Homo sapiens: one gene and its partners. The protein of the gene in region 1 interacts with the protein of each later gene in a biochemical or structural test. Each region holds a gene or a part of one and is shown on either strand. Other genes may lie near its edges.

Evidence for each region.
Region 2: the proteins of STAM (region 1) and CLTC form a complex in vitro, tested with the Homo sapiens proteins (one study listed by BioGRID).
Region 3: the proteins of STAM (region 1) and ARRB1 form a complex in vitro, tested with the Homo sapiens proteins (2 studies listed by BioGRID).
Region 4: the proteins of STAM (region 1) and USP8 form a complex in vitro, tested with the Homo sapiens proteins (2 studies listed by BioGRID).

Annotation. Positions count from the first base shown.
Region 1 is NC_000010.11:17,640,005-17,647,400, forward strand, and holds the start of STAM (signal transducing adapter molecule 1), read left to right. Parts: upstream 1-4,146; 5' UTR 4,147-4,335; coding exon 4,336-4,375; intron 4,376-7,396. UniProt on the Homo sapiens protein: Involved in intracellular signal transduction mediated by cytokines and growth factors. Upon IL-2 and GM-CSL stimulation, it plays a role in signaling leading to DNA synthesis and MYC induction. May also play a role in T-cell development.
Region 2 is NC_000017.11:59,678,782-59,686,059, forward strand, and holds part of CLTC (clathrin heavy chain 1), read left to right. Parts: intron 1-615; coding exon 616-738; intron 739-2,130; coding exon 2,131-2,276; intron 2,277-2,513; coding exon 2,514-2,697; intron 2,698-2,865; coding exon 2,866-3,058; intron 3,059-3,489; coding exon 3,490-3,647; intron 3,648-3,847; coding exon 3,848-4,012; intron 4,013-4,125; coding exon 4,126-4,233; intron 4,234-4,313; coding exon 4,314-4,481; intron 4,482-4,605; coding exon 4,606-4,755; intron 4,756-4,843; coding exon 4,844-4,975; intron 4,976-5,093; coding exon 5,094-5,204; intron 5,205-6,274; coding exon 6,275-6,445; intron 6,446-6,805; coding exon 6,806-7,027; intron 7,028-7,278. UniProt on the Homo sapiens protein: Clathrin is the major protein of the polyhedral coat of coated pits and vesicles. Two different adapter protein complexes link the clathrin lattice either to the plasma membrane or to the trans-Golgi network.
Region 3 is NC_000011.10:75,278,420-75,285,697, reverse strand, and holds part of ARRB1 (beta-arrestin-1), read left to right. Parts: intron 1-1,418; coding exon 1,419-1,463; intron 1,464-2,214; coding exon 2,215-2,411; intron 2,412-3,676; coding exon 3,677-3,736; intron 3,737-4,555; coding exon 4,556-4,623; intron 4,624-6,953; coding exon 6,954-7,089; intron 7,090-7,278. UniProt on the Homo sapiens protein: Functions in regulating agonist-mediated G-protein coupled receptor (GPCR) signaling by mediating both receptor desensitization and resensitization processes.
Region 4 is NC_000015.10:50,419,345-50,427,466, forward strand, and holds the start of USP8 (ubiquitin carboxyl-terminal hydrolase 8), read left to right. Parts: upstream 1-5,060; 5' UTR 5,061-5,170; exon of another isoform or gene 5,171-5,310; intron 5,311-8,122. UniProt on the Homo sapiens protein: Hydrolase that can remove conjugated ubiquitin from proteins and therefore plays an important regulatory role at the level of protein turnover by preventing degradation. Converts both 'Lys-48' an 'Lys-63'-linked ubiquitin chains.

The DNA of each region.
Region 1 (7,396 bases):
GAGTTACTGAGAGGTCAGTTCATTAAGGAGGTAATGCTAAAGAAGGGGGGTTTAATCCTGAAGGTAAGGCTACTCTGCACACTTGTAATCATACAATTAATTTAATTTTTTATTTAATGACTATCTTCCCCAAAGGCTGTACTCCAAAAAGGCTAAATCTCACAGAGCTTTTATCCCTATAATTCCAGCATCTAAAATGTTACCTGGCACACGTGGGAGTTAATACATATTTGCTGAATGACTGAGTAACTGAAGAAACCCTATAAGAATTTTAAGGAAATGATATATAATCAGATTTGTGTATTAGAAAAATCATTCTGGCGGTAAGACAGAGAATGGTTTAGAGGTAATAGCTGTATTAGCTAGCTTAGGCTGCCATAACAAAATACCAGAGTGAGTGACTTATACAACAGAAATTAATTTTCTTGCCGTTCTAAAGGTTGGAAGTCTGAGATCAGGGTACCAGCATGGTTGGGTTCTGGCGAGGGCTCTCTTACTGGCCTGCAGACAGCTGCCTTCTCGCCACATCCCCACATGGCAGAGAGAGGGAGAGACAGCAAGCAATCCAGTGTCCTTCTTATAAGGGCACTAATCCCATTAGCAAGGCCGCAGCCTCATGACCTCATCTAACTCTAATTATCTCCCAAAGATTCTGTCTCCAAATACCATCACATTGGGCATAAGGGCTTCAATATTTGTATTTTTGAGGATACAATTCAGTCCACAGCTGTAGGAAAGGAGAAAAGACAGCAGGAGGTGAATGTAGTAACTTGCCTAAGAGATGAGGGTATAAACTAAAGTAGTGACAATGCAGAGGAAGAGGAAAGACTGAGAAATAGTAATCATTCCTACTTGGGCTGGAATTATTAAACTGTTAAAAACCTTCCTAGGATATTCTTTTTCCTGAATTTGAAAATTATAGACTTTTTCGTGTAGTAACTCTATTTGCACACCAGTTTTTTGTTTTTTGTTTTGTTTTTTTGTTTGTTTTTTTTGTTTTTTGAGACAGAGTCTCTCTCTGTCGCCCAGGCTGGAGTGAAGTGGCCCGATCTCGGCTCACTGCAACCTCCATACCCCAGGTTCAAGCGATTCTCCTGCCTCATCCTCCTGAGTAGCTGGGATTACAGCTGCCCACCACCACGCCCAGCTAAGTTTTTGTATTTTTGGTAGAGACCGAGTTTCGCCATGTTGGCCAGGCTGGTCTCAAACTCCTGACCTCAGATGATCCACCTGCCTCAGCCTCCCAAAGTGCTAGGATTACAGGCATGAGCCACCACACTTGGCCAGTATTTTTGTTTTTAATGTAGATGAATTTTCAAAATCAAACTGAGAATAAAGGGATATAACATTTAACAAACAACCACAGAATTTATTAAACATACAACATTACAGAAACATTTTAATATGCCATTGATATGTAGTCTTCAAAACGTTTTAAAAACTGTGGTAATACTAAAAGTGAAACTCATAGAATTTCAGTATTTTAAAGGGATAATAAGGGACGTTAACCACAAAATACAAAGCATTTCACTTTTTATGTTTGTCTTTTAAGTTAAATATTAAAAATTTTATATTTAAAAAATGTTTATTATTTATACAGCACATTAATCATCGAGACCCCCCTGCCCCCACAGCTAAAGTCATTCTAGGTCAGAATGCACGGATACTGCTCTCAATACTAGTATGTATTACTCCCAGTGCACACATATTGATAATCAAGGCTTGAACAGTTTGTGCCCTGGCTTATTGCTGGCAACAGAGTAATTCAGTCCGGAGTACAGAACATGTACAAATGCATTTTCATCAATATCTGGCTCTGATACACCCAGTCTGAGCCACCAATATCTGGCTCAGGCACTTATGATAATGGCCCAAGACACTGCTCAGGATCTTAAGGTAAACAAGTTGTCACCTAATTCTGTCAGCCCAGCAATCAAAGCACATTTTTGAGAGGGAATGTTCTGACTTCCGTATCAGTCGTGATATTTCCGAATAATTCTATACTTGTCATAATGAAACACAAGCACGCTTTTGGTATTGGCCCTTCAAAACATTAAGAAACTGGTGGTACCAACATACCATTTTTGACATTGTTGTATTTTAACATTTTTTCTGCTTTTGAAAGGAATACACGCTCATCATTAAAATATTTTGAATAATAAAATGCACAAAGAACAAAAACATTGTCTAGAATCTTGCCACTCAGAGACAATCATGTCATAATATTCTCATGTATTTCCTTTCAGATTTTTAAAATTGTGGGCATTTGTAATTTTATAAGGTTTGTAACTTCCTTCTGAAAACTTGTGTATTCAGATGTCTATGTAAATATGAATCTGTATTATGCACCTTAAATGGCTGTGTAGTTTTCACATCTTATGTACTATGATTTAACTGACCAGTGTAAATTACAGTGATCAGTTACACTTATTTAGTGCTTACTCTATGCCAGGCACTGTAATAAGCGTTTTGCTTGTACTAATTCATTTGATCCTCACAACCCTATTATTCCTGTTTCTTACACATGAGGAAACTGAGACACCAAGAGGTGAAGCAATTTGTCCAATCACTCAATGTGGGACATTTAATGGCTGGCAATGCTTTGATCCTTTAGACAATGTTGCCATGTATACCTTTGTTCATGTTTTAAAAGAATGTCTTTAGGATTAATTTGCCGAAATGGAATTGCTGGGTCCTAAGGTTTTAAAAATTTTTTTACATGCTTCCAAATATTTCCCTTAGGAAGATTATACAGTATTTACACTTCATCCAACAGTATGTGAGTGTCTGACTCCTCACATCCCTGATTCTTTGCAATTTTTTTCTTTTTTTGAGACGGAGTTTCGCTCCCGGGTTCAAACGATTCCCAGCCTCAGCCTCCCGAATAGCTGGGATTACAAGCGCGCACCACCACGCCCGGCTAATTTTTTGTACTTTTAGTAGAGACGGGGTTTCACCATGGCCAGGCTGGTCTTGAACTCCTGACCTCAGGTGATCTGCCGGCCTCGGCCTCCCAGAGTGCTGGGATTACAGGCGTGAGCCACCGCGCCCGGCCGATTCTTTGTAATTTTTACCTAAATGACAAAACATTATCTAACTGCTACTTTAATTTGCACATTTCACTTTTAGAGGTGGGACTTCATTTTTAATGAATTTTTAAGCACTCTTTGATTACTATGTATTAATCCTGTGTTGACATGTCAATATTAGTTTCCACGCTACATTTGGAGATGCCGTAATTTGCGGGATAATTTCCATTTACGTACAAGATGTGCTTACTAAGTTTGTTCCAAGTGGGACGCAACATCTCTAGTAGATGCTCCTTAAAACTTCTCCATCACACAGAGAATAATTTTTATTGGTTAACTAAACTTATAAGTAAAATAAATAAACCAACATTTTGGGTTGCTAGGAATCACTCACTGATCAACTTTTAGCTCCAGTTTTTTTCTGTTTTCTTTTTTTTGCTCAGTCTAGGGAGGCTATCTTGGGCTGTGAAAGACATGTCACCAACCATCACAGCTGCTGAGTGATTGCACGGTTAGTCAGTAGGTGCCAACGCCCTGCTAGAAGAGCTGTCTGCAGATTCCAAAGCCGGGCGTTCAGGGACTCCCGGGAAGGAGCCAGCGTTACCTCAGCCTCTCCGAGGGACACGCGCGCCCTGAACACTCCCCTCTTGGGATTCAGGCCAATTCGTTCAGCTCCCATGACTTCATCCGAGCAAGTTTGTCACCTCACGCAGCTAATTAAACTGTTTACCTAGAAGATGATCCAAAGGAATTTCCATTTCCTTCCAGAGGGAATACAAGGTTATGATAACCGAGAGAGCGAGAGGAAAAAAGGCGCACAGCTCGACCCGAACTCAACCTGCTTTCTTTCTCCTGGCTCTCCCAGTCACTCCTGGGGTTGTTAGTAGGCTTCAGCACGCCTGAAGGACCCCGTCCTACGGAGACTCCTAGCCAAGGGAAAAGCAGAAAACACAAGAACTAATTCCACTCTTATGTGTGACTAATTAAAAGAGGAGTCAGGCAGAGGGGACTCCCTGTTCAGCCTTTACCGATGGGGCAGGCTCGGGGCAGCTTTGAGACAGGCAGCGCCAAGGTCGCCCAGATTCCCGACAAGCTCCGCGCGGGGGCTTCCTCGGCTCCTTGCTGTTGCCGCCGCCGCAGCTGCTGCCGCGGTTGGTGGGGTTGGGTGAGAGGAGGAGCTGTCGCGGACCCTGTAGAGTCGGTCTCTGTTGCTCTTTTTGCCTGAGGAGTCTTCCATCCTACGTCGAGCTCTGACTCCCGTGCTGTCGAGAGGGAGTCCCCGGGGACACCTCGGCACGCAGCGGAGATGCCTCTTTTTGCCACCAATCCCTTCGATCAGGATGTTGGTAAGTGTTTTTGCCTCTCCCTGCCCATTCCTCACCGGACTGCACGCTCACTCTGCCAGCCCCTGCCTGCATTCAGGACCCTCGGGCCAGGGCCAAGGAAGAGCTCGCTCTTCCCCTTTCCTGAGGCTCCCTCCTTCAGAGCTGGGAGGAGGTTGAGGGCTTGGCGCATCCTCTTTGAAAGAAATGGGACTCATCCTGTGAAATGGGCCTTGAGCTAGGACTGTAGGTTGCCAAAGAACTGCTGAATGGGTTGGTGTAAAGGGCCTGGGAGGAGCAGCTGGTGTAGCATCTGGTGCAGGGACTGTGCTTCTGGAAGAACAGCGAAGGGCTTAAGGCGTATGTTGGCTAGATTAGGATTGTAAACCCTGTACCAAAAGTGCTTGCCTAGACAAATAAATGTTGAGCGTCTGGAACTGGCAGAATGTTTTAGGTAAGGTTCCTTAGAGGATTTTAAAATCTTTTGTAACGGTAACTGAAGGAGGGAGCTCTGGTTAAGGGTAGACTCTCAAACATGTTAGGAGCGATGAAGATGAAATACTTGGCAACGACTGAAACCGAATTGAGGACCTGAGCCTTTGGGATGTCTCTCTTAGGCTAGGTCTCTGCACTTTAAAAGGTGTAAAGAAGTGTGGAAGAAGTTGTTGAATCTGGAAAGAGTTTGAAATGCTACATTTTTGTTGTTTTCTGAATCACTGGTATTAGGTACTGATGATGTCAATTCAATAGGTTTGCTTTTGGTTTTTAATTTTATTTTATTTTATTTTTTTCTGACTTGAAGATAATAATTATGGGAATTTGAGTTTCCGGGGAGAGAATTTTGGTTTAATTTGAACGCACGTAGGAACTACCTTGGCACACAAGTGTGGAATGAAAGCAAGCCAAATACCATTTCCAAATCCCTTATGGCAGAATGTAATCATTACTGTGAATAAGGACAACCTTATGAATTTACTTGTCTTTGTGTATTTTAATTATGAAAGGTGGATGTTGAATTTTTCTTTTTAAACTCTTCCTTAGAGCATGTCACTGAAACTTGGAAGTTTATATAAGAGTAGAAAAAAGTTCACTCCTTACCTCTGCCACTTCTCAGCTCACGGTGAAATCATAGGCAAGTTAAATTCTTTGAGTTCCAGTGTTCTTGTCTTTAAAGAGGGGAAAACACATCATTCCATTCTGCAGTTAAATAATATGTCTAGAGGGCCTGCTACAGTACCTTTATGTGGTTGGCACTTACTAGATGCTACCTTTTTTGTTCCACCTTAAATGAGTGTCCTGAATCTTAGCAGTGGACAGAACCTTGGAGATCACCGATTATACTTAATGAATTGGAAAATTGCATTTAATTTAATAAGCAGTTAGCACACACTACAGGACACAGCAGCTCAGTGACATAAGAGATACAGTGATGAGCAAGGCCTAGTTGCTGTTCTCAAGCAGTTTTACATCTCACTACATGAATCTCTAGGGGAAATACTTAAAACAGCTTCTTAATACTTGCTTCTTCTGTTTACAGCACCTTTGTCTAGTTTTCTTGGTCCTGTATAATTTAGCTAGCAACTACCCAATCACCTTTATATTCTACTGACTTTGTGAACACATATTTGCATTGGATTCAGGTAAATTTCTTAATGTCAAACCCGTTCCTAGTAGCTGTACCACCCAGTTCAAACACAGGCACCTTCTTGCCTTTATGCTTTTGTCCTACGCTTATGCTTTCTTTTATCTTTCAACATATCCTTGTGTGTTAAGGCCAACTCAGAATCCAACTTGTTACACCTGAGTCATTTCCTGATTACTGTAGCAAAGGGTTTCTCAGTAGCAACGTTATTGACGGTTTGGGCCAGGTAAATATCTTTGTCATAGGAGTTTGTCCTGTGCAATGTAGGGTGTTCAGCCTTATCCCTGGCCTTTATCCACTAGATGCCGGTGACACCCAGCCCCCACTCATGATTTTAGAAGTCTCAGGACATTGCTAAATGCCCCCTGGAAGGACAAAATACCTCCCAGTTGAGAACCGCTGCACTAGTCCACTCTAATTTCCACCTTCTTACAAAATCCTCTAACTTATTTTAGCATTTTTGCCTTTACCGAATTATTTAGCATTCAAGATAGTTTTATACTCCTTAATGAGAGGTTGCTACATAGGAGGTGTTTAATAATGTTTGTTGAGTTGAGAATGTGTCAGTTGAGCCTGCCAGACATTATACTTCTTCAGTGTAGCAACATTGTTTTGCTCCAGAAAAGCTTACTTTTTAAAGTTGCTCAGGTTTTGGTATTGGACCAATTCTCTTCTCACAATCCTTGTATTGAAATATTACAAAAGGTTTATCTAAGAAGACCCCTCAGAGATTCCCAGTACATAAGCCTTGCACAGAGTCCAGTAGACTCATATTATTTTTTAATAGTATAACATATAGAATACAGTGTATAGAATACACTTAACAATTTTTTCTTTCACCATATCTACCAATGAATATGTCATAACATTAAAGTAACTCATTTGATACAGTTATTTATCACTTAACACTCGTATACATTTGCACATCTTCAAAATTAATTGTCTTCAGTCTTAATCTGAGGCTGAATCAGAAATTCACTGACTGATTTATATAATATAACATTTTTTATAAAGAGACACAATGCTGGTGATAGCTTTTCCCTTGGAAGAAACACCGAAAGATGTTACTAGAATGTGAGCTCTGTGAGGACAGGGATTTTTGTTTGATTTTTTCACTGCCGTATCCCTAGCTGTAGACCAGTTTTTGGCATGCTGAAGAACTTTCAGTAAACATTTATGGAATAAATGAATCTCATTTTGGACATTATAATTCAAGAGCTGAATTTAGAAGAAACGTAAAGATAACTTATTTCATCAAGTTTGTATTTCAAAGTCTCTAGTGACTTCCACCTTGCCAAATCCAATGGTCACTTTCTAGTCCATTTCTTTTTTGATCTCTTAAGCATTCCTCTTTGATATACAGTATTTTATTCATGGGATTTCAGGACACCAAACTTTTTCTC
Region 2 (7,278 bases), on another chromosome or scaffold:
CTTGAGCCCAGGAGTTTGAAACCAGCCTGGGCAACATAGCGAGCCCCCCGTCTCTACAAAAAATTACATGATTAGCTGGGGGGAGGTGCCATGCACTTGGTTTCAAGCTACCCAGAAAGCTGAGGCAGGAGGATCACTTGAGCCCAGGAGGTCAATGTTGCAGTGAGCTATGATCGCAACACTGCACTCTCCAACCTTGACAACAGAGCAAGACTCCTACTTTCTGAAAATATTAGAAGTCAAGATCTGAGCTTTAGTGTATTTGCTTCTAAGATCTTTCAGTGGTCAGGGCTTAGTTACATTTATGTACATACATATGCTCATTTATGTACATACATGTGCATATACGCATGGAAAAATAAACACACAAGAACAGCTAGTAAAACACTGAAAACTGTAAAAGTGGACTAGTCCTACCAGATGTTGAACTGTGTATTACAAAGTCTATATAATTAAAACAGTATATTACTGGTACATGAATCAAAGTCCAAAACTAGATCCAATATCAGTAAGATTATCAATAAACATAGTTTAAAAGATAGGAAATACCCTCTAAAATGCTATAAAAAGTCCTTTACTTTTTACCTTGAAATTAATCTATCATATCTTCTTTAGGTTTGCAATGAGAATTCCCTCTTCAAAAGTCTTTCTCGCTACCTGGTACGTCGAAAGGATCCAGAATTGTGGGGCAGCGTGCTGCTGGAAAGCAATCCTTACAGGAGACCCCTAATTGACCAGGTAACATTGGCAAATGTGTTTATGGCTGTCAGTAAAAATTATACATTTTTAACTATGAATACAATCCTTTCCCTCATCATGTACTCAAATGGATCATATATAACTATGAGAGAAAGCAATACAAAGTAGAAGAAAATTAAAATTTATATATATTCAATTTACATTCATTTGTATATAATGAATGTAAATTGATTATATACATTATATACAAATGAATGTACATTTATATAAGTATAAATATGTATATAACATACATTAAGAAAAATAAGCCATGTGCGGTGGCTCACGCCTGTAATTCCAGCACTTTGGGAGGCCGAGGTGGGTGGATCACCTGAAGTCAGGAGTTCGAGACCAGCCTGGCCAACGTAGTAAAACCCCATCTCTACTAAAAATACAAAAATTAGCCAGGTGCATGTAATCCCAGCTACTCGGCAGGAAAATCGCTTGAACCCGGGAGGTGGAGGTTGCAGTAAGCCGAGATCACGCCATTGCACTCCAGCCTGGGTGATAAGAGCAAGACTGTCTCAAAAAAACAAAAAGAAAAAAGAAAAAGAAAATACATCCCAAAAGACCTGACTTAATTATATAAAACTCTCTTGGTTCATCATAGTTTAAAAGGAAAATAACAAACTAAACATTAAAGATTGCTATTATTAACACTTAAGTGGCTAAATTGATTGGAAACTTCAAGATAATAAGTCAGAAAAATATAAGGATAAGAGAAAATACAAAAGACCAAGTGCATCAGTGTTATATCTTACTAATAAGAAGTATAGAACTGCAAATGAGATGGGGTTTTATACCTAAATAAAATAGACAACATATTTTAAAAGTTCTAAAAATAGAAGAGTTGTTATAATGAGTCTTAAATTCTCCTGAGATAAGTATAAATAAAATATTTTGGAAACGAATAGGTTGAAGGCTATTAATATTTCATTCCTTTCCTAGGAAGCACTTCTAAGCAACATTCCCAAGTAGTTACAAAGCTTCCTAGGGGAAGGTTGTGGGGGTGGGGGCGATGGTTGGAAATCATTGCAGCATCTAGAAAACCAAGCAAATAGCCAAAACCAGACGAATTACCGATATTTTAATTCCACATCTGTGTAGCTGAATTTTGAATTATGTGTAGCCATTAAAGTGATAATGATGATTGCTAGCCTGGATAATGTTTTAATCAGGGAAAAGATAGAAATTATATAATTAGAGTAATTTTTCAACACAATTATACATATTGTATAGATTTGTGTAGAAAGACCTCTCTATGTAAATTTAAAGGTCTTTTTCCTACTTCATTCTTTTCTGCCTATTTCAAGTTTTCTAATGAGAGGCCAACTTACGCTTTTTTAAAACCAACTTGATTCTCAGTACTTATGTCCCATATATCCTCTGTAGGTTGTACAAACAGCTTTGTCTGAGACTCAGGACCCTGAAGAAGTGTCAGTAACTGTAAAGGCTTTCATGACTGCAGACCTTCCTAATGAACTCATTGAACTGCTGGAGAAAATTGTCCTTGATAACTCTGTATTCAGTGAACACAGGTATGCTTTCAGAGGGATCCATTGGCTATTTATAGTCAGTCTTTAATAAATTATGGCCCATCAGTTTTGGGAAGGAACAAAAAGATCAGAGAAAGTTGCCTGAATTCTCACTCTTCTAATATCCTCCCCCCTACCCTACCTCTTGAGACAAAAACCTCTCCGTTAGTCACAGTGGTTATTTTTTATGTCGGATAAACTTAAAATATTGCATTTAAAATATTCTTTTTTTTCTTAAAGGAATCTGCAAAACCTCCTTATCCTCACTGCAATTAAGGCTGACCGTACACGTGTTATGGAGTATATTAACCGCCTGGATAATTATGATGCCCCAGATATTGCCAATATCGCCATCAGCAATGAGCTGTTTGAAGAAGCATTTGCCATTTTCCGGAAATTTGATGTCAATACTTCAGCAGTTCAGGTAAATCTTCAGATTACCTAAGTTGAATTACTAAACACTGTGCTATGAGGGTGGGCCTAATTGGTTGCTACGGCAATAGAGCAGCAATAAAATACTAACAGCTTAAATGTAATTGCTTTGGGTAGGATTGATTTTACTCTAACCCTAATTTCAAACTTGGATACTTAGGTCTTAATTGAGCATATTGGAAACTTGGATCGGGCATATGAGTTTGCTGAACGTTGCAATGAACCTGCGGTCTGGAGTCAACTTGCAAAAGCCCAGTTGCAGAAAGGAATGGTGAAAGAAGCCATTGATTCTTATATCAAAGCAGATGATCCTTCCTCCTACATGGAAGTTGTTCAGGCTGCCAATACTAGTGGTATGACTTCTTACCTTATGTATTGAAACCTCATAAAATGATTAAGCTAAGCATTAAGATATCTGTCTATTCTGAATTTTAGAAGAGTTGGATACTGCATGGTTTCTTTTAGTGCTCCATCTTAGTCCAGATAAAAAGAGGCTGTATTTTGTGAATTTGTAAGTTCACAAAACTTACAAGTGGGGAAGATGAATCTTCTGTTTTTGAAGTCTCATAAAATCCTGATAGTGCTCTAATCTTAAAACTTTAAGGAAAAAGAATTCATCTATTCATTTGGTCCGTGATAATACAGAAGTGAAATATTGCACGGTTTACATTTGTCATTATCCATGTTTCCTTGAAAAGGAAATGAATGCAATTTTCATTTACTTGGGTGAAAGATAAACTAGGATGTTAGTGTTTGGATATATTTTTTCTTTTTCTATACTTAGGAAACTGGGAAGAACTGGTGAAGTACTTGCAGATGGCCCGTAAGAAGGCTCGAGAGTCCTATGTGGAGACAGAACTGATATTCGCACTGGCTAAAACAAACCGCCTTGCAGAGTTAGAAGAATTTATCAATGGACCAAATAATGCTCATATCCAACAAGTGGGTTTCCTTTTCAGATTTAAGAAAAACTAGTTGGGCTACTTGATTAGCTTGGTAGGATCAAAACATCATAACTGAAGAATTCCAAGGAAAAATCTATAGGAAAACAAATTCTTTCTCATTGTGAAGATATCAATTTGAAAAGAGGATTAAGCTCACACTAATATCTTGCTGAATGTGGGTTACCTTTTTTTTTCCAGGTTGGTGACCGTTGTTATGATGAAAAAATGTATGATGCTGCTAAGTTGTTGTACAATAATGTTTCCAATTTTGGACGTTTGGCATCTACCCTGGTTCACCTGGGTGAATATCAGGCAGCTGTTGATGGGGCTAGGAAAGCTAACAGTACTCGAACATGGAAAGAGGTAATCTAAACCCAAGTTTGAGTGAAGAATTAAAGAAACGCTATTTAAACATTAGTTTAAATAACTAGCCATGTTTTACATTTGAGTTCACAGAAAGGAAATGTTTATTCTAGGTCTGCTTCGCCTGTGTAGATGGGAAAGAATTCCGTCTTGCTCAGATGTGTGGACTTCATATTGTTGTACATGCAGATGAATTAGAAGAACTTATCAACTACTATCAGGTATTAACGAGACTTTTATATGACCTGAGATCTTTTACCATAGATATTCTTATCTTTAACTGCACATTTCTCTTGTTCAGGATCGTGGCTATTTTGAAGAGCTGATCACCATGTTGGAAGCAGCACTGGGACTTGAGCGAGCTCACATGGGAATGTTTACTGAATTAGCTATTCTATACTCTAAATTTAAGCCTCAGAAAATGAGGGAGCACCTGGAGCTGTTCTGGTCTAGAGTGAATATTCCCAAGGTAACCAGTCATTGTAACACAGTGAAGCAACTGTGTAGTTAAAACTAATGCTTCAAAATATCTTATTCTTTTTAAGGCTGTTAGCTAGACTCATATCTAAAGCAATTAAGTCTTTCTTATGCAGGTGCTAAGAGCTGCAGAACAAGCTCATCTTTGGGCAGAACTGGTGTTTTTGTATGACAAGTATGAAGAATATGATAATGCCATAATTACCATGATGAATCATCCAACTGATGCCTGGAAAGAAGGGCAATTCAAAGATATCATTACCAAGGTGTGTACTTTCTTCAGAAGATAAAGGATTCAGAAGGAGAAAGCTCATTAGGAAGTAACTGACTTATGTATGGATTTTCCCATTGTAGGTTGCCAATGTGGAACTATACTACAGAGCAATACAGTTCTACTTAGAATTCAAGCCTCTGTTGTTAAATGATTTGCTGATGGTGCTGTCTCCACGGTTGGATCACACTCGTGCAGTCAATTATTTCAGCAAGGTAAAGTAATAATTTTAAACCAAAGCTTCATAGCAAGGAATTAGGACATACTTCGATAACTTTTGTCCCTGGGACTTCAATAATGTGCTATATTTGTAACAAACTCTTTATTTTAAAGGTTAAACAGCTACCACTGGTGAAACCGTATTTGCGTTCAGTTCAGAACCATAACAACAAATCTGTGAATGAATCATTGAACAATCTTTTTATTACAGAAGAAGATTATCAGGTAAAACCTTTTGATTCTTGCACATAATCTCAAGACTCATAAAGTTATGTTTTCCCATTTTTTAAAAAAGCCATTATCCTTTAGGATTGTAAACAGTAGGTGCTTGCATACCTAGGATCTAAATTTAGTAAGATTTCAGGATTGATAAATCTTCTAATTAAGTGCCAAGTTTTCAGAATTTTGCTCAGATCTTGTATAAGATACTGCTTTTGAAAAAAATGATATGATTACTTTATCTCTAACATCTAGATTGTAGGTAGAGTCAAAAATGTCTTTGACCACTTAACTAATTCATAAAATTTATTTGGTATTAACTATATTTATTCACCATTTTTCTTGCCTACTGTTTTATTAGTGTTTGTATAAACTTTCTCTTATGAAGGATTTCACAAGCAAAAGTGAAGTAGAGTTAAGCTTAAGCTACTTGCCTTTTTTTCTCTCTCTTCATTTTCTTTGAGGCTCAGCGCATGCAGATCTGTACTGCTGCCATGCTGAGTTTTATCAGAAGTTTCTCTAGAGCACAGAATCTTGCCCTCCATGCCAGGCGTGGTGACTCACGCCTGTAATCCCAGCACTTTGGGAGGCCAAGGCAGGCGGATCACGAGGTCAGGAGATCGAGACCATCCTGGCTAACACAATGAAACCCCGTCTCTACTAAAATACCAAAAAAATTAGCCGGTTGTGGTGGCACGTGCCTGTAGTAGCAGCTACTCGGGAGGCTGAGGCCGGAGAATCGCTTGAACCCTAGAGGCAGGTTGCAGTGAGCCCAGATTGCATCACCACTGCACTCCAGCCTGGGCAACAGAGGGAGACTCCATCTCAAAAAAAAAGAAAAAAATCTTGCCCTCCAAATTAGAAATATTGTCCATTTCATAGCCATATGTTAGTCCTTGATAGTGAAAATCTTGGAGAAAATGGTATCTTTAGGTAAAATGAAAAATCATACCTTTTGATGCTTGAATCTAGGTGTCATATTACATGTTACCATCTAAGGGGCTCATTGATTGAGAACGGAATATAATGTTAAACAAAATACTGATCTGGCATTTGGATGGCTTTTTTTTTTTAAGGCTCTGCGAACATCAATAGATGCTTATGACAACTTTGACAATATCTCGCTTGCTCAGCGTTTGGAAAAACATGAACTCATTGAGTTCAGGAGAATTGCTGCTTATCTCTTCAAAGGCAACAATCGCTGGAAACAGAGTGTAGAGCTGTGCAAGAAAGACAGCCTTTACAAGGTTGATAAAGTTGCGGGGCAGGGGCTGTTTTAAACCAGGCCTAAAATGGTGTTACAAGTGATTATAATCTATAAATAAAAGTATTGGTTTTGTGAATATGAGAGCTGACTTTAAGGCAATTTAAGTTAATGGATTTCTTGATTCTAGGGGCTCTCTTATGTTAAGGTCAAACTTGTCTGGGGAAAAAAAAGCTTTTAGCTTATCTCTTCTTTGAAAATTTTAATTTAAATGATACAACTAGGAGGCTTTTTTCCCCTTGCAAAACCAGATTTATATTGGAAAGTTTCCATTGTTTTTCTTGGTTTACTAGTTCAGTATGTGGGGTCTAATGTTTTTGACTTTCACTATTTCTTTGAATAGGATGCAATGCAGTATGCTTCTGAATCTAAAGATACTGAATTGGCTGAAGAACTCCTGCAGTGGTTTTTGCAGGAAGAAAAAAGAGAGTGCTTTGGAGCTTGTCTGTTTACCTGTTACGATCTTTTAAGGCCAGATGTCGTCCTAGAAACTGCATGGAGGCACAATATCATGGATTTTGCCATGCCCTATTTCATCCAGGTCATGAAGGAGTACTTGACAAAGGTAATGACTCTTCTAAGTGTATTCAGAACTAGTTTCCTTGCATGTAAAATTCTACATGCACATTAATTTTTTTAAATGCTTTTTTCTTTAGTAGAAGTAAGTCATTTAGTCGATCATAAAATATTCCTGTTCTTTTGAAATTTTTTTTTAATAGCTGACAAATGACACTGATTGGAAGGGGAACTCAAATGTAGCTGTTTACCCTCAGTGTATTTATGAGGGTGAAAATAATCTATGTATTTTTTTATTTA
Region 3 (7,278 bases), on another chromosome or scaffold:
GTATCCCCGAGAACTCTGGGGCACTGTGCAGAGCTGATCAGGGACTCACTGTGAGAGATTCTTCTCCCATAGTGACGCTGCCATTTGGCTTGATCTGATCACACCCTCCCTATGCTTACCGGTTCCCCACCAAACCTGCACACAAGTCCAAGCCCACTGGCCTGCCCAACAGGACATTGATGATCCATCCTGGCCCTCCTCTTCCACCAGCAGTGAAGTGACAATGGGTTAGAGGGTAGGGGGAGAGAGAGAGGAAAGAAAGGTTTGGCCAAAGATAGACAGGGGATGTCAGCCAAGGGGGTGACCCTGAGCCAGTGTTTCTGGCCTCCTGGGGTGCTGAGCAGAGATGTCCTTTGTGTCCAGCTGGACTCTGCCCCCAAGGGCAGGCCTCAGGGCACTGAGGCGCCTTCCACAATCTGCAGAGTGCTCTCGAGTGCTTGGCACTGTCTAAGCGCTGTACACATATGCACATTCACACATGTACCCATTCAGTCGTCACGGGAGCCCCATGAGGGAGGCACTGCAGATCACAACCCCCAATCCACATGTGCCAAGCCCAAGCTCTGAAAACCTAACATTGCTTCCAAGTTTAATGCAGAATTCATTTATTGGCAAACCTGACCCAAACTGATGCGAGGCTATTTATGCCTTATTTAGCCTCTTGGTGAGAATATTTGTGTTTTCCTACAGAGGTATTAATGGCTTTAATAATAAGGTACAGATCTTGCAGAGGTCATTACAGAATATATGGAACATGTACCATTTTGCCTATTTTATTTTATTTTATTTTATTTTGAGACAGAGTCTCGCTCTGTTGCCCAGGCTGGAGTGCAGTGGGATGATCTCAGCTCACTGCAGCCTCTGCCTCCCAGGTTCAGGTGATTCTCTTGCTTCAGTCTCCCGAGTAGCTGGAACTACAGGGGCCCGCCACCATGCCCAGCTATTTTTGTATTTATAGTAGAGTTGATGTTTCACCATGTTGGCCAGGCTGGTCTTGAACTCTTGGCCTCAAGTGATCCGCCCACCTCAGCCTCCCAAAGTGTTGGGATTATGTGCATGACCCACCACGCCCGGCCCATTTTGCCTCTCTATACTTCGCAATTTCTAAATTCCAAAGAATACCTGGTTCTAGGAGTTTCGGACCTAGGTTATTATTCTTACTAGCAGATGAAGAAACAGAAATGGTCTCTAACCTGCCTAAAGTCACCAGCTGGGTCTGTTATACTGGCCTGGGATGGGGGAAGGGTGGAGCGTGGTGGAGGTGGGCAGTGCCACCCTCTAGGTGCCCGCCTTTCCATTTTTCTCAGGATGATTTTAGATGAACAGATGGTTGGATCTGGGCTTGGGCTGGTGTTTGGGGCACAGAGGTTTGGGAGACCAGGTTGGGAGAGGCCGCTTACTCTCTGTCCTTTCCCCAGATGGTGTGGTCCTGGTGGATCCTGAGTATCTCAAAGAGCGGAGAGGTAGGCTGTGGCCCCCATCCCCAGCCTGTCAAGGGCCGCCTCCTCTTCCCCCCGGACCTCTAGCATAGGAACTCCCTGCCCATCCCCACTGGTTCCCCTGAAAGCCCCAACAAATACCTCTACAGATGCCGTTGCCTCCTCCAGCCTGGGACGGCCCTGCCCCAAGCTTACTTTGGGAGAAGGTTTCCCCATGCCCTGAGCACTTTCACATCAATATGTCATGACTGTGGCAAGGCTGGGGATGCCAGCAGGGTAGGAGTAGGTTCTTCTTTAACAGAACAGAACATTGATACCGGGGCAGTATCAATGCGCAGGAAGACAAGAGTGCAGACTGAGCTGTGACAAGACGCTTGCCGTCCAGATACCACCCAGCACTTGCCCTGCCCCCACAACTCCCTGCTCCTTCCCCAGGTCCCCTACCCCCACCCCAGGCCTGCCAGACTACTCCAGCCCCCGCCAAGCCTGTCAGACCGTTTCCATACCCCTCCACATATGCCCTGGGGAGAGGTGGGAGGGGGAAGGACAGAGCTGGCTCAGCAGGCAGCCCCCTCCTCCTCCCAGGGGCCAGGCCATGGCATCCTTCCGGTACTCACTACCAGCCCTCCTGGTGGAGACAGTGCAGCCATCCCCACAGAGCTTGGGACAGGCTTGGGGCCTCCAGTGGGGCCCGTCCCAGGGCTGCTGCCGGCACTCTGGGGGGCTCGCTTGCTGCTCTCCCAGGCCCCTCCTCAGTGCTCCTCGCTCCCCACAGTCTATGTGACGCTGACCTGCGCCTTCCGCTATGGCCGGGAGGACCTGGATGTCCTGGGCCTGACCTTTCGCAAGGACCTGTTTGTGGCCAACGTACAGTCGTTCCCACCGGCCCCCGAGGACAAGAAGCCCCTGACGCGGCTGCAGGAACGCCTCATCAAGAAGCTGGGCGAGCACGCTTACCCTTTCACCTTTGAGGTCAGGAACTGCCATCCCTGGGGCCCCATTCCAGAAATGCCACCTCTAGGAAGCCCTCTGGGGTGGGCATAAGAGGGCGGTGAGGGTCAGCTGCTCCCTGCCACCCAGTTTCCCAGTGTATGCTGGGACCTGGGGCACTGTCACCTGTGTTACCTGGTAAGTGTCTCTTCTCCAGCCCCTGCTGGGGTTTGTCACCTGTACCTTTGGGCTACTCCTCAGACCCTTCTGAGGCCAGGTCATTGGTGGGAGAAAGGGGGTGCTAAGGGGCTTCAGAGAAAGAAAGAGCCCTTTCTGGACCCTGCATCACTGCAAGGGGTTTCCCGCTCAGATCAGCTCCCCACTTGCCCGGCAGCAACCCAGCTCGCAAGAGAGGGATGGCAAGTAGGTGATCTGTCTGCCCCACCACCTTTCAAATCAGAGACTTTAAGATGCTGGATTTCAAAATCTCAAGTTTCTTAGGCTCTCTGATTCTGAGATTCAGTGTGGTCTCTCCCTTTCTTGGAGGCTGAGAGAGTGGAGAGGGTCATGGAGTCACCTTTTCTACGTAGACATGTTAGCTCCCTATGGCTGCTGAAACAGATTGCCACAAACTCGGCAGCAATTAAAACAACACAGATGTATGAGCTTACAGCTCTGGAGGTCAGAAGTCCCAAAACAGGTCTCAGTGGGCTACCATGGAGGCGTGGCAGGGCTGGCTCCTCTGGAGGCCCTCGGGGAGCGTCCACCTTTTCCAGCATTGCTTTCCTTGGCTCACAGTGCCTTCCTCCATTGTCAAAGCCAGCAGTGGCCGTTGAGTCTTTTGTACATCCCATCACTGTGGCTCAGACATTTCTGCCCCCTGCTTCCACTTCTAAGGACTCTTGTGATTATACTAGGCCCACCAAAATCATCCAGGATACGGTCCCCATCTCAAGGCCTTAATTGGATCTGCAAAGTCACTTTTGTCATTAAGGTCCCAGGTTTGGGCGATTAGGGTGTGGACATCTTTGGGGAACATTATTCTGCCAACCACAGTAGACATCATAGAAAGATCTATTTAAACCATTGCTGCGAGGACTGGGCTGGGCCAAACCCTTTAGATAAAGAAAGCTCTTTATCTAAAGAGTTTTAGATGGGGCATGGCTTGGCATGGTCTGATGGGATAGACATGGCCTGTCCCCTGGGGCCCTTGGTCTGATGGGTGTATGGGAGTGTCTGGGCTGCAATACATGAGACAGGACAGTGGTGGATGTGACAGGTGGCTCGTTCTGTCCTCTTCTTGACAGATCCCTCCAAACCTTCCATGTTCTGTGACACTGCAGCCGGGGCCCGAAGACACGGGGAAGGTAGGTCACCCCAAGGGGACCATCTCTCTGGCTCCAGGAGTCTCATGTCCCCAGGTCCCTGGCTTTCTCCCTGGGAGGTGCTGGACACACAGGACCACTCTCCCTGTTGAACAGTCTTTGTGTCTAGGCTAAGCTGGTCCCACCTTGGACAACCAGTCTCTCTTCAGACAGGGCAGCAGGTACGGGGTCAGCCTCACTCTCCCATTCAGTGATGGGTCTGGAGGCTCTCCTGGGTGGCGTTGGCTGCAACAGGACCAAAGTGTTCTGAGGACCTACACCTGGCCTCATGTAACCCCTGGCAACCTGGAATCAAAGTGCGATCATCCCCATTTCACAGATGGGGAAACTGAGGGTTGGAGAGAAGTGACACCACTAGCTCCAGAGCTTTGAGCCCAGCTTCCTCATCTGCAAGATGGAGATAACAGCACGTGCCTCCTTGTCTTGTTAGAGGAATACCGGATAAGCCACCCAGGGCCGGGTGTGCACACAGTAGTAGGCGCCCCCAGTCTGCTCAGGTGCCTGTTGCTATTTCTGGGCAGCTGCCTGGATGAGGACGGCCACCCAGACTGAGGCAGGAATCCAAAGAGCAGAGCCCCGTTTGGGTGGTTCGAGATGTCCCATGTCAGATGGAGGAGGCAGCACAGCATTGGGGCTGAGCACAAGGGCGTTCCCCCGCTTCTTCCAGACCAAGGAAGGCTGGGCTGTGGGAGCTTGGTGTTCCTGTCCAGTGTCCTCGTTTGTAAAATGAGAGGTGGGCTGGCTGTGTACTGGGGACCCTGCTTCTCCAAGGCCCTGTGGTCAGTGACCCCTTCCCCACAGGCTTGCGGTGTGGACTATGAAGTCAAAGCCTTCTGCGCGGAGAATTTGGAGGAGAAGATCCACAAGCGGTGAGTAGGATGCCAGGGTGTGGGCCGCCTGCTGGGTGAGGGAGGGAGACAGGATGGGCAAAGTCCAAGAGGAGATAAGTAACAATACCTGGAAGTGTGTGAGGAGGGGCGCACATTCCAGCCTTGGAAGGGCACTCTGGAAGCTGGGAGGTCACGGAGGGCTTCCTTGGGGAGGTGGCTTCGACTGCCTGGGTTCAGGCTGCAGCATCTTCTCCTTTGCACCATTGTGGCAGCTTCCTCCCTCATCTCCCTGCCTCTCATTTCATCCCCTCCAGACTGCATGTCTTTTTAATTTGTTTTGGAAAAACCCTAAATTCAGATTGTGTTAAACAGTGAGCAGGCTGTTTCCTGACCATTCTCATTTTCCAGTTTTCCTCCTGGGAGGCGTTCAGCAGGAGTGGAGTGTGTGTCAATGGCAGCTTCTAAGTGAGGAGGAAGTGGAGATAGTGAACCCATCCAGGGGAGAGTGACAGGGAGGTCGGCCCACATCTAAGAGATGGGAAGCGTTCTCTGGAGAAGAACAGCCCGGGCAGACAGAGAGCCCAGGCTGGCAGCCAGAAACAGCTGGCCCGGATGTCTCATGCCTGCCCCTCCTGGGTCGGGCTGTGCTCTGTCTGCCTCCTGGAATAGCTGGTGGGCCCTCGACGCTGATGTGCCTGCATCCAGAGGCACTGGTCCCAGAGGAGGTTGGCTGAGGGCACAGCAGCCTTTTTAGGGCGTGGGCTGAGTTTGCCACCTGGTGGCTATAGGGTGTATTGCATGCATTTGCATCTGCAGCCCTGGCAGCTGTGTGTGAGGAGATGGGACTTTTCTCCCTTGCTTCTCTGTCTCCCTTTTCCTCTTAAGACCTGAGACCAGGGAAGAGGAAGGGTGCTGTGGGATGTGGGAGGAGGCTTGGTAAGCACAAGAAAGAGGAGGTGACATCGAGAGCCACCCCTCTCACCCTACCACCAATGGGACATTTAAAATCCACACCAAGGAGTTACTAATAATAATGATATAGAAGCTATCATTTATCAAGGGCTGATTAGGTGCCAGACACCATTTACAGTGCTGGGCTGTATGAACTAATTTAATCCTCACAGCAGCTCTAAGAAGTACGTCCTTGCTGGGCGTGGTGGCTCACACCTGTAATCCCAGAGCTCTGGAAGGCCGAAGGCAGGCATATTACTTGAGGCCAGGAGTTCCAGACCAGCCTGGCCAACATGGTGAAACCCCATCTCTATTGAAAATACAAAAATTAGGCAGGTGTGGTGGCATATGCCTGTAACCCCAGCTACTCAGAAGGCCGAGGCAGGAGAATTGCTTGAAGCTGGGAGGCAGAGGTTGTAGTGAGCTGAGATTGCGCCACTGCACTCCAGCCTGGGCAACAGAGTGAGACTCCATCTCAAAATAAATAAATTAATAAAAATTTAAAAAGGAGAAAAAGAGGTAGGTCCTTCTGTCATCACCCTTTACAGATTAGGGAACAGAGGCAGAGAGAGGTTAATGTACCCAGGGCCACATAGTTAGTAAGAGGAGAGCTGGGAGTTTGACCCTGGCTCCCTGGTTACAGGCAATGGAGGCAGCTTATCTGAGCAACGGAGATGCCGGCATTCCCAGCATGCCACAGAGACGGCCTCACCAAGTCCCCCTCCCTCACCAGATCCTCATTTGCTCCCTGATCCCCTGTAATCTTCATGGAGCCAGTCTCATCCATGGGCCTTCTCCCCTCCCTGGGCTTGTCCCCTTCACTGGCTTGCATCCCCCTGACTGAATCCACGCCTCCTCCCTGAACCCCAACGCCTCCCCAAGCCCCATTTCTTCTTGAGACCGCTGTCCCCTCTGCATAGTTTTACATAATAGATATCTGGCAGTTGTTTATTATATGGCAGGCACAGTCATAGGTGCTGAGAGTACAGCTGTGAACACCTTAGACACAAATTTCTGTCCTTAAAGAACTTACACAAATAGTGTCCTATGTCACCAAAATAGATGACAGAGGGACACTATTTGTGTATGGTGACATAGGGAGTCAGGAAGTGACAATGTTACCTATTTGGTGACATAGGGAAGCAGGAGGTGAAAAATGTAGTCCCTGTTTCAGCATCCTGCTGGGTACCAGGACCAAATGAAGTGCAGCCACAGGGCACTTCTGGGACAGAACAGGGGAGGATGGAATGGAGCCAGATGGTGACAGACCCCTATGCTGATCTCTGCAGTTTGGCTGGATTCTAAGGTGATGGAGAGCCATGCCAGTCTCTTGAGCAGGAGAATGATGTGAGGCTCGCAAGGAGAGGGGATGAAGGCAGGTGACCCTGGTCCTCTTTCACTCCGCCCATCTCCATTAGGAATTCTGTGCGTCTGGTCATCCGGAAGGTTCAGTATGCCCCAGAGAGGCCTGGCCCCCAGCCCACAGCCGAGACCACCAGGCAGTTCCTCATGTCGGACAAGCCCTTGCACCTAGAAGCCTCTCTGGATAAGGAGGTAGGAGGCTCGGACTTGGCAGGGGGTGGGGGCTGCTCCACCAGGGCCTGGGCCTCAGATCCCAGCTCTCTCCTGGCCTGCAAGGATGCCTCAGGTAGGAGCTTCTATCCCCAGCCCAAGGACCACAGGGGTCAGGGAATCTGAGACCTCTCATGGGGGATTTGGAGAAGCCTCTTGGGCCTAAAGGAG
Region 4 (8,122 bases), on another chromosome or scaffold:
GTTTCTATCACAACCCCAGAAAATAATTTGGCTTATGTTTATATAATGTTTAAAGAAAGCAACAAGGTGGGTACATAAAAATCTTAGTGCCAAAACACACACACACACACACACACACAATCACTGTTGGCCAGGCACAGTGGCTCACACCTGTAATCCCAGCACTTTGGGAGGCCTAGGCAGGAGAATCACTTCAGCCAGGAGTTCAAGACCAGCCTGAATGACAAGGTGAAACCCCATCTCTACAAAAAATACAAAAATTAGTTGGGGATAGTGGTGCATGTGTATAGTCCCAGCTACTAGAGAGGCTGAGGTGGGACGGTCACTTGAGCCTGGGAGATTGAAGCTGCAATGAGCCATGAACATGCCACTGTACTCCAGCTTGGGCAACAGAGCAAGACCCTGTCTCAAAAACAACAATAACAACAACAACAACAAAACCCACAAACAAACAAAAACCACTGTCCTTGCTAGTCCTTTATCCTGTTTTATTTTTCTTCTAACACTTCTAGCACTTAACAACACCTGACATAGTCTACGTGTATTTGCTTATTGTATGTCTCCTCGACTAGAATGTAAGTCAGCTCCGTGTTGAGCAGGAATTTTATATTGTGAATCTAAAACAATGCCTGGCATAGAACATGCATTCAGTAAGTACTTGTTAAATGAATGGAAGATGAACCAGATTTTGGACTACTGCTTATGCTGGATGGCATGTAAATTGAAGCTGTGATCAAATACAGGCCATGCCTCTAAACAGCTGATGACCGCTTAGATTCTAGGTGCCATAGATACTGCTGCCTGGTTTGTTACAATACTTTTTTTTTTTTTTTTTTGCTTTTACTCTTTACTATTATTCATTACTGGATGGTGGGTGAGGGGAAAAATACAGAATACATGCCCTAGTCCAGTGCTGTCCATTAGAGCTTTCTTTAATAATGGAAGTAGCCTGTATCTGCTGGTCAATAAGGTAACCAATAGTTACCAGGGGCTGTTGAGCACTTGAAATATGGATATTTTGACTGAACTGAATTTTTAATTTTACAACTAGCTGTGGTTACTAGTTACTGTATTTAGCAGCCATACTCAACAATCCTATAGGTCTATCTTAATTACTTTTATAGGAATGAAGAGTATTATAATTATTTCTCAATTATATATATTTGGTTTTAATTTCTACAGAGGAAGAGGACAACAAAGTTTTGTGAACTATTATTCATATAAGTTTGTAGTTGTTTAAGGAAAAGACTTCACAGAGAACAGGGCAGAGAGTAACACAATATCTGATTTCCAAAAAATTCAATCAAACTTTGATATGGATTTGGTCAAATCATTGTTTAATGGCCTCCTTAACATTATTATTAAACTGATTTATATAATTTGCTTTTTACTAATCAAATACATTGTTTTAAATCTTAATTATTTTTTATTATAAAAGTAATACACATTCAGTGTAACAAGTTCAAATAATCTCTCAGGTGGATAAAATACGGACATCCACCACACTGTACCTACCAAGATGCCCATACCCCAAAGATGATTGCTGTTAAACATTTAGAGTGCCTTTCCTGACTTTTTTGTCTAAGCACCTTTAAAAACCAATACTTTTGGTTTTCAGTGATAGCTCTGAATCCCCTTTAGGCATAGAGTGTGGGAAATTATATTTCTGCAGCAAACTCAGGCTCTGCAACATCAAGTGTGGATTCACTGGAAATTATTTGAAGTAACACTTAGAGATCATAGTAGCCAAAAAATGTTGGGAAATTAAAAAGGGGTTTTTAAAAATTAATTATCGTTATTATTATTTTTTTCAAAGAGACAGGGTCTTCACTCCATCACCCAGGATGGAGTTCAGTGGCGGAATTACAGCTCACTGAAGCCTCAAACTCCTGGGTGCAACCAATCCTCCTGCCTCAGCCTCCCAAGTAGCTTGGACTACAGGCATGCACCAACTGTGCCAGGCTAATTTTTTAATATTTTGTAGGGATAGGGTCTTGCTATGTTGCCCAGGCTGATCTCAAACTCCTGACCTCAAGCAATCCACGCACCTCAGCCTCCCATAGTGCTGGGATTACAGGAGTGAGCTCCCACACCCAGCTGAAAAAGGTTTTTGTGGAGGGAGTATGATCAGGAGAAAAATCATGGAATGTGCTCGAAAGAGATCTAAAGGGCCATGGAAGTCAAAAGGTTGAACTCCATAGAACAAAACATGAAGTATGGAAAGATTCTTTAAAAAACACTTGACTTTGGAACAAAATCCAAATTGTTCCCATGATTTCATTCTTTGACATTATGTTCATTTTGGTTATCTTAGTCTTTTCTCAGAATTCCTCTTTAACAGAGAATTATCTAAAAGCCCCTGGCTAAGTTAATGCTTATGACTATGGTCACAAATGGATGGCTTGGATTTTATTTGTTTTGCAGTGTTTGTAAATTTTTTTATGTATACTGTTGTTGTCAACTAACATAATCCGTATGTATATGGGTTATATATATATATATATATATTCCCCAAATTTAAAAACCAGTTTGGAGATTTTTCCCACACACAGAAAATCAGAAAATTGGCAATACTCTGCCCCATTACCACATGGCAACAATGTAGACAGGCCATGAGTTCTCCACATGGCCCTAATCCCCACCACTCTTAAACAAATCTAATCAGTTTTATGTATATTATATATGTATATTGCTGTGCTTCTCCTTCCTGCCTGACCCTGCAAGACCCCTGTCTCAGTCTCTCTCAACATGTCTGAAGGACTCGAGGGCAGGTGTCAAAGGTGAAGGCCCTCATCTGGATTTAATGTCCTGGACCTTGAAACAGCAGCTAGTGTTTTGAGCTCTAAGCTAACACTTTGGACTTTCTTTTTTTTTTCGAGATGGAGTCTTGCTCTGTCGCCCAGGCTGGAGTGCAGTGGCACCATCTCGGCTCACTGCAAGCTCCACCTCTCGGGTTCACGCCATTCTCCTGCCTCAGCCTCCTGAGTAGCTGGGACTACAGGCGCCCTCCACCACGCCTGGCTAATTTTTTGTATTTTTAGCAGAGATGGGGTTTCACCGTGTTAGCCAGGATGGTCTCGATCTCCTGACCTCGTGATCCGTCCGCCTTGGCCTCCCAAAGTGCTGGGATTACAGGCATGAACCACCGCGCCTGGCCACATTTTGGACTTTCAGTCATGTTTTCTTTCCCCAATGAAATAGAAAAGTTTTATTTCAAAGAGGAAAAGGGTGCAACAGCTGCAACATACATAAAACCTATTTAGTTTTACTTGGGAGTGGGAATCAGGAAACCTGGGTTCTGTTTTTGACTTAGTTTGGATAAAGAAGGGTAGTTAAGCTGTCCTTATGTCTCTTACCAAATGGAGAAAATACTGCTGTAGTTCACAGCAATTTGGGGAGTTTTAGATTCTATGGAAAATGGAAATCCTATTTGTAACTTAGATTTTTTCTTTGGAGAAGGAGTCTCGCTCTGTTGCCCAGGCTGGAGTGCAGTGGCACGATCTCGGCTCACTGCAACCTCCACCTTCCAGGTTCAAGCGATTCACTGACTCAGCCTCCTCAGTAGCTGGGATTACAGGCACGCGCCACCATGCCCAGCTAATGTTTGTATTTTTAGTAGAGACCAGGTTTTGCCATTTTGGCCAGGCTGGTCTCAAACTCCTGACCTCAAGTGATCTGCCCACCTTGGCCTCCCAAAGTGCTGGGATTACAGGCGTGAGCTACCGCTCCCGGTCTAATTTTTAAATTTTTGTTTTGTAGAGATGAGGGTCTCCCTTTGTTGCTCAAGCTGGTCTCTGTCTCTTGGGATCAAGGGATCCTCCTGCCTCAGCCTCCCAAAGTGCTGGGATTACAGGCCTGGGCCACTGCAACCTGGCCTTCATCACAAATTCATTGAACACACTTTCTTTATTTTATCCTTTTTTATTTTTAAAAATTTTTATTTCAGTAGTTTTGGAGGAACAGGTTGCATGGAAAAGTTCTTTAGTGGTCATTTCTGAGATTTTGGTGCACCCATCACCCGAGCAGTGTACACTGTACCATGTGGCACACACTTTCACTTAAAGCATTTACTAGACCTCGCTAGCCAGATTTCCCATCCCTGAGACACCTGGAATGTTCCTGAGGACTTAGTGACTACTGCCTAAAGCTCCACCCAAGTCAATTTTATGTTTACAGGCAACCGGAGCATCCAATCACCTTTCTCTAAGAGAGTACAAAGATCAGCTCGCGAGAAAGTTCAGACGTCTCATTTCGTTTCTATTACACGGGGCCTTCGCCCAACCAGACGGAGTCTTGCTCTGCTGCCCAGGCTGGAGTGCAGTAGCGCGATCTCGGCTCATTGCAACCTTCGCTCCCCGGGTTTAAGCAATTCTCCTGCCTCAGCCACTGGAGTAGCTAGGATTACAGGCGCACGCCACCACGCCAAGCTAATTTTTTGTATTCTTAATAGAGACGGGGGTTTCACCATGTTGGCCAGGCTGGTCTCGAACTCCTGACCTCATCATTTGCCCGCCTCGGCCTCCCAAAGCGCTGGGATTACAGGCGTGAGCCACCGTGCCCAGCCTCGCCGGGGCCTTTTAAGTGACGTTAAAAATTGTACATAAAATATGTTTTAGGATAATACTTGTTTTTCTTTGACCAAAGGCTTGGCTTCAGAGAATGTTTAGCCAGAAATAGAGGGGCGTTAAATCCCCTTTTTTCTAATTTCCAATCTGAGGAGGAAAATAACGTAGTAAAGGGACGCAAGAGCAACCTTGCTTCTTCCACAACAAGGCCCAGGCGCCGCCTTGCAACCCGGAAATGCAGGGTGCAGTGCGGGGGGTAAGGGACCGGCCAACTATGTTGACCCGACTCAGAGAAACCCCGCCCTTGCCGCCACCGCCCACCCATAACGTCCTCCTCGACCCTCCCTCGACCATCCCTCGCCCCGCGGCCCTCACCGAAAAGGGGAGGGCGGTGGAAGAGAGAGGAGTCAAGGGAGCGCACGCGAAGCCCCGCCCCTGCCGTGACGTCTGGAGACGCGACGCGTCGCCTCGCAATGCAAATCGGGAAAAGGGGGTGAGCTGGGCTGGCTTCCGTCCTGGTAGCCAAGGCTAATTCTCCCTCGAGTTCTTGGGAGATGGGCATTTGGCGAGAAGGCTGGCGTTAGTGAAGCGCGCCCGGCGTCACGGTGAGTGCGGGTCTTGGGCCCTAGCACCTGTTCTCTGGGAAGTCGTCCGCTGTGAACGATGAACGCCTTTCCTTCCACCAGCTGCTGGTTACCCCGGAGACAAGCTCTGTCCGCGGAGAGGAGTGGGACAACTCCTAAAGGTAGAATCAGCTTGTGGAGAGGAAAGGCCCAACCTTGAGTCTTTTACGCCATCTACCTAGGATTGCCAAGCGAGTTTCGTGTGTTTTTTTGGTTTTAAAAGGTGGCTTTGACCAATCTTCCGTTCTCTTGGACACTTATACCCGACTTTGACCTCTTTCCTCTTGCTTCCGGTTTTTTTTTTTTTCTGCAATCTGCCTACAATCCCAGGCCTTACTGTAGCTCCTAAAACTGTTTCCCAGTTTCTCTTCTTCCCCAGTCACACTTGATTTTAGTGAAGTTTGAGTTTAAAGACCCTATAAGCTTGTCAGAGTTAAAACTATGACTTCCTCAAATAGAAGATTTTTTTTTTTTCCCCTAAAAAGTGCCTTCCATCCTAGAGTTGTGGGACAAGTTAATTTCACCGCCACTCCACCTTGGAAATTATCAGAATCCTTACTAGCAGTGATGTGCATTATAAAGCTGCAGACCACCCTCCTGGGTTTATTTCTTGCCTCCAGTTCATTCTGTGACCTTGAACAAGTCACTTAATCACTAACAAAAAATTTACCTGACACGGAGGTGTTGCAGAGCCTAAGGAATTTAGTATTTGTTAAGAGACCTGAGGGTTTCAGATGAAAGGGATTTATATCTAAAGGATGTTACCTTTTCTGAATCTGCAAAGCATCGTTAGTTTTGTAAATATCTTGCTGCAGCCATTAAAAATGCCAAGTGGTATTTGTTAAGGAAGTATTCCTGTTTTAGGCTTGCTCTGCTGCGGCTTTGCTATGTAAGCAGATTTTTGCATTTCAGCCGATTCTGTTTAAGATTCGTTGGTGAATGTCATTCATGATGGATTTGGGTAGTTTCTCCTTACAGCATATCCCTGGACTATTAAGCATATCTGGAAGGTGATATCGGTTGTGTTATGTCTTTATCATGTTGATATGGCTGCTTTGAAATATGTATTCCTTTTCTTGTGACACATTGGATGCATCTTTAATATTAGTGAAGACCCTGTAGTAGTTTAAAAAAAAAATACACCTCTCATTAATGAAATTTTGCACATAGACATCTGTTTTTTTAAGAAAACAATGTATAAGAAAAACTAACAAAAATGTTTTAAAGGTGCCTTTTTTAGCATTTCGTTTTTTAATATATTTACTTGGACTTTAATCTTTATGGGCATTTGTTTATTAATGTGGACGTGGCTGGGCGCAGTGGCTCACATCTGTAATCCTAGCACTTTGGGAGGCGGAGGTGGGCGGATCACTGAGGTCAGGAGTTCGAGATCAGCCTGGCCAACATGGCGAAACCCGGTCTCTACTAAAAATACAAAATTAGCTGGGCGTGGTGGTGCACGCCTGTAGTCCCAGCTACTCTGGAGGCTGAGGCAGGAGAATCGCTTGAACCTGGAAAGCGAAGGTTGCAGTGAGCCGAGATTGCGTCATTGCACTCCAGCCTGGGTGACAAGAGCAAAACTCCGTCTCAAAAAATAAAAAATAAAAAGCGTGGACATAATGGAAAATAATCAAAATGACTTTTGGGTAAGACAGTTGGAAAATAAAGCCAGTACATTAAATTTTTTTCATAAGTCTAGCACTATATTACGAACTTTTCTCCATGAAAATGCACTCATATTTATGGAAGTGAAAGGAAAAAAATGTCTTCAGGTATGTGTTGCTAATAAAATTAGATATAATTAAGGAAACATTTAAAAAATACCTTGTTGTTGTCCCAGTTACCTATTGCTGCATAACAAATCACTCCAAAACATAGTGACTTAAAACTGTAATTTAGTATCTCTCCTGTTTCTCTGGCCTGCCTGGACTTAGCTAAGTGGTTTTCACCTAGAGTTTAATGCGTTTGTATTCAGATAAGCAGCTGAGTTTGGAGTCAACCGAGAGCTCAGCTGGTCTGGACATCCAAAATGGCTAATTCACGTGAAGGCGTTTGATGTTGGCTAGGAGTTCAGCTGGAAATGTCAACTGGAATGCCCACACATAGCCTCTTCACGTGACTTGAACAGTATGGCGGCTAGGTTCCGAGAATACATGTTTGAGGAGTCAGGAAGTAGAAGCTGCCAGTCTCCCAAAAAGCCTGAGCCCAGAAATTCGCACAACATTACTTCCAACATACTCTGTTGGTTAGAGCAAAGACCAGCGTACAACCCTCACCTTTGAAAGGAAAAATGTCAAAGAATTTGTGGCCGTGCTTTGCCTACTATAATTTTGATGACAAAGTTGTATTGGACTCTTGTTTGCATTTATATAGCAGATGAAGAATCAGGTACACTTCCAATTTCCAGTTTCTTTCTTTCTTCTTCTTCTTTTTTTTTTTTTGAGATGGAGTCTTGCTCTGTTGTCAGCCTGGAGTGCAGTGTACGATCTCAGCTCACTGCAACCTCTGCCTCCTGGGTTCACGCCATTCTCCTGCCTCAGCCTCCCGAGTAGCATGTCACCAAGCCCAGCTAATTTTTGTATTTTTAGTAGAGATGGGGTTTCACCATGTTGGCCAGGATGATCTTGATCTCTTGACCTGTGATCCACCTGCCTCAACCTCCGAAAGTGCTGGAATTACAGGCGTGAGCCACCGCGCCTGACCCATTTCCAATTTCTTTAACCGTAATACTTTATGTTGTAATGGCATATTACAGTTTTCAAAGCATGTTTTTGTATATTTTTTCACTTGATACCTATGGTCACCCTATAGAAGCAGACAAATAGTTCCTATTTCATTTTGCAGATGAAAGTAAACTGAAGAGTGGTGGTGGTATTGGGAGTGATTTACGGAATTTGTTCAAAGTCATATGATTAATAAATGGAAAGTAAGGCC